2 linked regions of the Homo sapiens genome follow. The protein of the gene in region 1 purifies or fractionates together with the protein of each later gene. This does not show direct contact. Each region holds a gene or a part of one and is shown on either strand. Other genes may lie near its edges.

What was found. Proteins that work in one complex are often made in the same cells at the same time.
Region 2: the proteins of H1-7 (region 1) and ZNF317 purify together in Homo sapiens (affinity purification with mass spectrometry; one large-scale study listed by BioGRID and IntAct). This does not show direct contact.

The regions. Positions count from the first base shown.
Region 1 is NC_000012.12:48,327,597-48,330,779, reverse strand, and holds H1-7 (testis-specific H1 histone), read right to left. Parts: upstream 1,801-3,183; 5' UTR 1,489-1,800; coding exon 721-1,488; 3' UTR 501-720; downstream 1-500. UniProt on the Homo sapiens protein: Essential for normal spermatogenesis and male fertility. Required for proper cell restructuring and DNA condensation during the elongation phase of spermiogenesis.
Region 2 is NC_000019.10:9,139,132-9,143,196, forward strand, and holds the start of ZNF317 (zinc finger protein 317), read left to right. Parts: upstream 1-1,265; 5' UTR 1,266-1,461; intron 1,462-4,065. UniProt on the Homo sapiens protein: May function as a transcription factor. May play an important role in erythroid maturation and lymphoid proliferation.

The DNA of each region.
Region 1 (3,183 bases):
TACCACTCCATCGGGAATTAATTATACACATATTTAACTCTCAGTGATGAGTACCTATCCTATGCCAGGCCCTATGCTGGATGCTTTCATACACTTATTTAACTGAGGATTGACATAAGAATATCTTTTAAATTAAAATAGGTTATCAATTCAAGGCAAAAACTACAAACTCATTATAATCAATTTTGGGAGGACTTTGTCCTAAAAGGAATTTCAGGTAAGAACACTTTGAATCAGTGGGACCACTCAACTTAAAGACTGTCTACTCTTTTCCCAACATGCCTTCCTCCCCAGAACTCAATTTGGATTTGCTAGAGTATCTAACAATACTTCAACACTTGTTAAGCTGCTGGTTTTCCTCTGTTTTCTCTCCTTCTAAAAGACATTTCTCTGAGTTCTGCAGCAGGAACAGAATCTCAGCTAATTTACTGTCTTCACTGAACGTTACCACCACCCACCCCTTCCCTTCCAGGTGCGGCAAAGAGGAAACAGACACAAGGTGGTCTAGAGGTCCATTTCATTTCAATGAGTGTGACAGCCGCTCTTCTTGGGGCCTATGGGGGAAAGGCATTGGTCCGTGGTGGGAGTGAAGCTGCTCCCACAAGATGCATTCCCAACTGGATCAGGAAGACCTTCAGATTTAGGGGAGGTCTTTGTGGAAGTCTTTAGTGGAGTCTTCCCCTGCCCGCTAGATGTCCGGTCGGTTTTAGCCCGCGTTGGCTACTGGATGGTCCGCTGTGCGGGCTTCTTGGGCTCCTGCTTCTCTTCCCTGGGCTTGGAGCTTCGCCTCTTGTCCTTCCCTGACCTCGGCGTGGTGTCTTCCTTCACGGCCTGTCCTCGCCCCTCGTCTGCCGCTGTCGCTCCCGCTTCCTCCTTGGCTCTGGCACACGGCGGCTCCTTGGCTCTCGGCCTTGCCCTCCTGGTCCTCCTCGCCCTGGCATTGGCCTTGGCTTTCGCCCTCGCGTTCCGTCTCCACACTTCTCTGGCCTTCCTGGCCGCCTTGCGAAGGGGCTGGCGGCGCCTCCGGGAGCTCCGGGGCGCGGCTGGGGTCCTCCAGGGAGCGCGCGTGCCCTCCTCTTGCCTCGCGCGTCCCGGCTTTCTCCTGGGCTTGGGAACCTTCCAGACCCTGAAGTAGCCGGCGGCGTCGCTGCCGCTGACCCGGAGGAGCGTGGCCTTGGCCTGCCCCCTGGGCGCTTCGTGGCGGCCGCTCTTCCTGCGCACTTCGTAGCCGGCGTTTCGGAGCTCCTTCTTGAGAGCTGCCAGAGTCAGCCCTTTGTGAGTGGAGATGGCCTGGAGCACCAACTGGGACACTCTGAGCACGGAGCTTGAGCAGCCCCTCGATGGTCCCCCGACAGTTTTTTCCGCTGGCAGCTGAGTGGCTGAGTGTCCTCGGGATTCGCCACTGGGCCCAGGCGCCTCAGCCATGGCCCCACTCCCGCCTCTGCGGGGCCACCGGCTTTGGGCCTCACCAGTCAAGGCCTGTTCCATAGCTGAGGTAGACTGGGCCACGTCACAAAGGCAGGCCTGGCAGAGATTTTCAGGTCCTAATTATGGGGCTGGCATATCTCACCCGGGGAGGGGCCCTTTTCACTTATAATAACCAATCAAATGCCACTTCCTTCTAGGTCTAAACCAATCCAAGTCTTCAGCGCCTGTCCACCCCCAACAGTCACCTACCTATAGAGTCTCCAGGGTTTTGTTCCCAAATCAAACTTACTGATCTCGATCTCCACCGCTTTCTTTAGTCGGCTATTTTGTGTGTGTATGTGGTCCTGCAAACCATCTACCCACAGTTCCTTAAGGTGAGCGAAGCTGCTCCCAACTATCCAAAACAAGCAACACACTGCCTGTAGAAAGTACACGGGGTAGTCCATGAAACACAACCCAGATTAGAAACTCCCACCTTTAATTCCACCAGTCAGGTATCTGAAGTCATGTCTCCCTAATTCTACACAGTGGATTCTGTGCAAGAGCATGAAGTAAAAAAGGAACCAATTGTGTGATCCCTCTACCCTAAACACTGATTCCCACACCTGGGAAATTTAGATGACGCATTCAACTGTACTGAAACAATCTAGATTTCACATCGCCTGAGGATACTGGTCTAATCATTATTCTTTGAACATACTGTGTTTTTTTCCATCTCATCCCCTCTCTTGGATTTCTCATCCTCTTTGTCTGCCCAGATAAGTCCTGCTCATCTTTCAAGGTACTGCTACATTATCCTTCTTCACTGAAGACTCCCCAAACTCTTTCAAATGATTTCTTGCCTCTTAACTACCACAACCACCAAAATTACTTCTGCAATCTTATATGGCTTTTTCTTTATTTTAAATGAATTTGGCATTAGAGGGTATAATGTGACACAATATTTTTTAAAAAGAAAAAAACTCGTACTTGGAGCTGGAAGATATGGATGCATATCCTAGCTCTTTAGGAGCCATATGACATTAACAAATCCCTTAATATCAGTGGTGTGGCTGTCAGATGGATGTGCCGGCCATCTGACTTCTTATCTAACATCACATTCCCTTCCTACCAACATCACAGAATTATTGCAAAATTTCAGAAGAGGTAGATGAACAAGGGCTACCTAAATATAAGGAATAAATTTACTTTACTTTGAATGTTTCTGTCTTGTATTTCCAACTAAATAAAGATATCCTCAAGAGCTATAGTCTTTGAACTTCTATGTCCCATGCTGCACCTAACAATATGCTTCATTATACACAGCGGGCATTTAATTGAGCCTGCTTACATCATTCCTCTCTGGTGAGGAGAGTTTCTCTAGATTCAGAAAGAAACTTCCAGAAGATCAGGAGAAAGGAGCAGAGTGAATTTCAAAGGGTTGGAAATGAAGGGGGCCAAGTAAGGATTAGCTTATCAAGGACCTATTTTGGACACAGTTTAGTTGGGAATAATTTAAAGTATTATTCTAAGAATACTTCAAATTGCCAAGCATATCATACTTTTCCAGAGGGCAATCACATACATTCATCAGTCACAGGCTAGACAGTGACAGTTTCTTTTAAAAATCAAAGCTCCAGGAAGTAGCTTAGACCAGTGCTTTTTTTTTTTTTTTTTGAGACAGAGTCTTGCTCAGCCCAGGCTATGTAATGGCACAATCTTGGCTCACTGTAACCTCCACCTCCTGGGTTCAAGCAATTCCTGTGTCTCACCCTC
Region 2 (4,065 bases), on another chromosome or scaffold:
TGTATATATTATGTATTATGAAATATATATTACGTTATGTAATATAGATTATATATTATATATGAATATCTTATATCCATATATATTCCATACATACATTTTATATGTGTGTGTATATATATATATACGCACCATGGTCCATCCCCTCAATAATATATTTTCCAAAACCTCAAATTTCCTTCTCTCTGTCTTTTATAATACCTGCCCTGGATAATACTAACCATCTGTCTCTCCTGCCTATATAATTCTGCCCCTACTGGTTACATGGGAAGCCTTGGTTTCCTAAAGTGTTGAGATTACAGGTGTGAGCCACTGTACCCAGCCTGATTCTGGAATTTTGTATATGCAGACTCCTCCTGCTAAAATAATATATATTATATATAATATATATTCCATAATATATATAACATACATACATATATTATTTTAGCATATATTATATAATATACGGTAATAATACACATAATACATAATTATAATAAATATGATATAATATATATTCCATTGTATAAAACATATAATATATATAACGGAATATTATTCAACCTTGAAATAGAAGGAGGTCCTGACATTTATCACAAGATGGGTGGACCTGGAGGACATTACGCTAAGTGAAATAAGCCAGACACAAAAAGAAAAATATTGCATGACGTCACTTACATGAGGAACTTTTTTTAATCAAGAGAGACAGCTCAAATACACAGAAATAAAGAATGAGGCAGTTGGGGAAGAAAATGGGAAGATGTGGGTCAAAAAATACAAAATAGCAGATATGCAGGATGAACACCACACAGGTGATGGTGATTTTACGCCCTTCCCAAGGTGTCATTCAGAGGCACGTGGTCTCCATCTGACCCTCACTGGTGATATTGATTTGATCACCTGGTCCAGATGTTGTCCAATTTCTTCGCTGTACAATTTCTATTACTTTTTCTCCATTCCAACATACGAGCAGTTTATAGAGAGGCATTTAAGGCAATTCAAATATTCTGCTCGTCATGCAAATGTCCCCCAGTTGTGTCATGTAGATGACAATTCTTGCCTGATTCAACCTTTACCACTACGATGGCTACAAAATGCTGTGGGTTGTGGTTGAAAATTTGAGTCTTGAGTAGAAATTGGAGAAATATGCTGGACCGTCAGATTCCACCGGGGCACGGCCGCCATGCCAATCCAAACTTCAAAACTACAATTCCCAGCATCCTCTCCGCCCCGCTTCCGTATTAGACGCCGCCAATGAAGTCCCGCGAGAATTGGAAGGCGGCAGTGAAGCGGAAGCCATTACTCTCTGGAGTCGATTGCCCCGAGACACATGGGCCAAGGAGGGGTCAGCGGCGAATTCTTTCGGCCTGTTGGGGACCCCTCGTGTCCCCACGCCAGACTGGACCTCCCGTATGAACTTCTCTTCGCATCGGCGGCGGCTTCCGTCACCTCCGCTCCCCCGATCCTATTCCCAGTCGTGTAAGCCCTGCTTTCCTTAACCCTTCTCCCCCTCAGTTCCAGGGGTCACGGGAGGCCTATCTGGCGGTGAGGACTAAGAGGGTACGAGGGTCGGGGGCTAAAGAGCTAGGCATCCAGACGAGGGGTGCGTTTAGATCTCGCGATCAGCGATATGAAAAGCTGGGGACGCGAAGGATAAAATTGGACCATTGCAGCTAGTGATGAGAGAAGCATTGGTCACCTGATCCTGAAAAGCCCTAAGTCTCTGGTGGGGGCGGAAAAGCCCGGCTGAAGTGAATTCAAGAGTTTGGGGGCAGTTCAGGAGATTGGGGGGCGTCAGGATTTGGACATCGCGAGGAGAAATCACCTTCTTTCTGCGCTGTAGTCAATTTTATCTCGTGAATGTCAGCACATTGGTGTTCTTATTAGCACTTACCTTGAGTACCTTTTATATTTTTAATTTAAGACCTTCTGGTTGCACTTTTTTATTTATTTTAATTTTAGTGGACTCTTGTAAATAGCCTATATGTATATTTACTATTCAGTTCAACATTTTGTTAATTAACTTGAGTTAGTCCAGTTATACTTATCGTGATTATTAATATTTTCCATTGAATTTTACCGTCTTATTTTGTGGTGTGTCCTTTCCTATGCACATATTTTAACACTGGAAAATAGGACATACATGCAAAAAAAGTATGATTACACACACACGCAGACTTACACACACTTAAAAGGACAACAGTAAAGCGAATTTACAAACCAGGCCAAGAAAGAGATTATTAAATCTCAGAAAGCTGTGTGCCTCTTCTAAACTGCATCCTCCTCTCCCACCAATACTGTCTCCGTGGATTTGACTGCGTATACATCTTTTCCAGAAAATATATTTCCTAAATTTTGGTAATTATTTGTGAATGAACTCAGGCGCTTCAGTATTTTTGGAAACAATCTTTTTCTGTATTGATTCAAGCACACCTTTGTAATTTAGAGATTTCTAAATATCTTGTAGATGAAGTACTTACACCTAGCCATTCTTTTTCAGGAATGTCATGGCTTAAATTCTAGTCAGTTCACCAAATTCCACATACTGGACTTTTGTTTTCAAGTTGTGGTGAATCTATATTTGAACTTTGGGAATATTGTCGTTTTTATGCCATTGAGTTGCAGTTAATTGATTTACATCATTTATTTACATCTTCTTTAATGCCTTTCAATAAAGTGTTTTTTGTTGTTGTTGTTGTTTTTTCCTTTTTGAGATGGAGTCTCACCCTTGTAGCCCAGACTGGAGTGCAATGACAATCTCGGCTCACTGCAACCTCTGTCTCCCTGGTTCAAGCGGTTCTCCTGCCTCAGCCTCCCGAGTAGCTGGGAATACAGGCACCCACCACCACACCCAGCTAAATTTTGTATTTTTAGTGGAGATGGGGTTTCAACATGTTGGCCAGGCTGGTCTCGATCTCCTGACCTCAGGTGATCCACCGGCCTTGGCCTCCCAAAGTGCTGGGATTGCAGGAGAGAGCCACGATGTCCGGCTCAGTAAAGTTTTATAAGTACCTGCAAAAAGGATTTAGGTTGTTTTTGTTATATTTATTCTTGGGAACTTTGTTTTTTGGTGCTCAGAAAAGTCTAACTTTTGTGTAGTTTGTTGGATGTTCTTCGTAGACAAGGAAAATGTGTACAATTCAAAAGGAAAATACAAATATTTATTTTATACAGACGATAAATTGTCTTTTTTGTTTGTTTGTTTGTTTGTTTGTTTTTTGTGCTGGACTGGGTGGGGACTTCCCTTGTCATTGACTGGAGTTTGGATGGCACACTCTAGGCAAGCCTGTTTGTTTTCTGATCTTAAAGGGAATTGTCATTTGTGTCTGCCGAAGGCTTTTCTGTCGAATAGTTTTTATTAGGTCAAGGAAGCTCCCCTCTTTTCCTACTTGAGTTTTTCTTGTGAATTGCTGCAGGCTTTTAACAAGTGATTTTTTTTTTTTTTTTGCCATTATGTATCTGTTTATTGATACATTTTGTATCTGTTTGATACAAAATCTATATTGATAGTTTTGTATCTGTTTATTGATACATTTCTAGTACCTTAAATTATGGCACTCAGTACTGCTGTGTAACAAATTAATGAGTGAATAATATAATTTTTTTTCTATCCTGTAGTGTGGCAAATTAAACCAATTGATTTTCTCTTGTTACATTGAATTTGTATTGGTAAATAATTTGGAAAGGACATGTTACTATTTGTTACTTTTGGCTTCGGTTTGCTAATACTTTGTTTGGTGTTTTTGGATCTATGCTTGAGTGAAATGTTCCTTTTCTGTTTCAGATTTATGCCAGCCTCATAAAATGGGATGAGAAGTGTTCTGTTTTCTAAACTCTGGAATGTTTTGCATAAGAATAGAATATTTTGTTCCTTAGAACGGGAGTGGTACCTGGAAAAACCATTTGGGTCTGGAGTTTTCTTTGTGGAAAGTTTTAAAGCTATTGTTTCTGTTCTTTTAAGGTTTGTGGGGCATTCAGGTTTTCTGTGTTGTTATGATGAGTAAAATTTCTTTAGGAATTTATTTATTCCATCTGAGGTTTAAATCGTATAGTCAGGGTTGTTCATAACATACTCAAATTTTT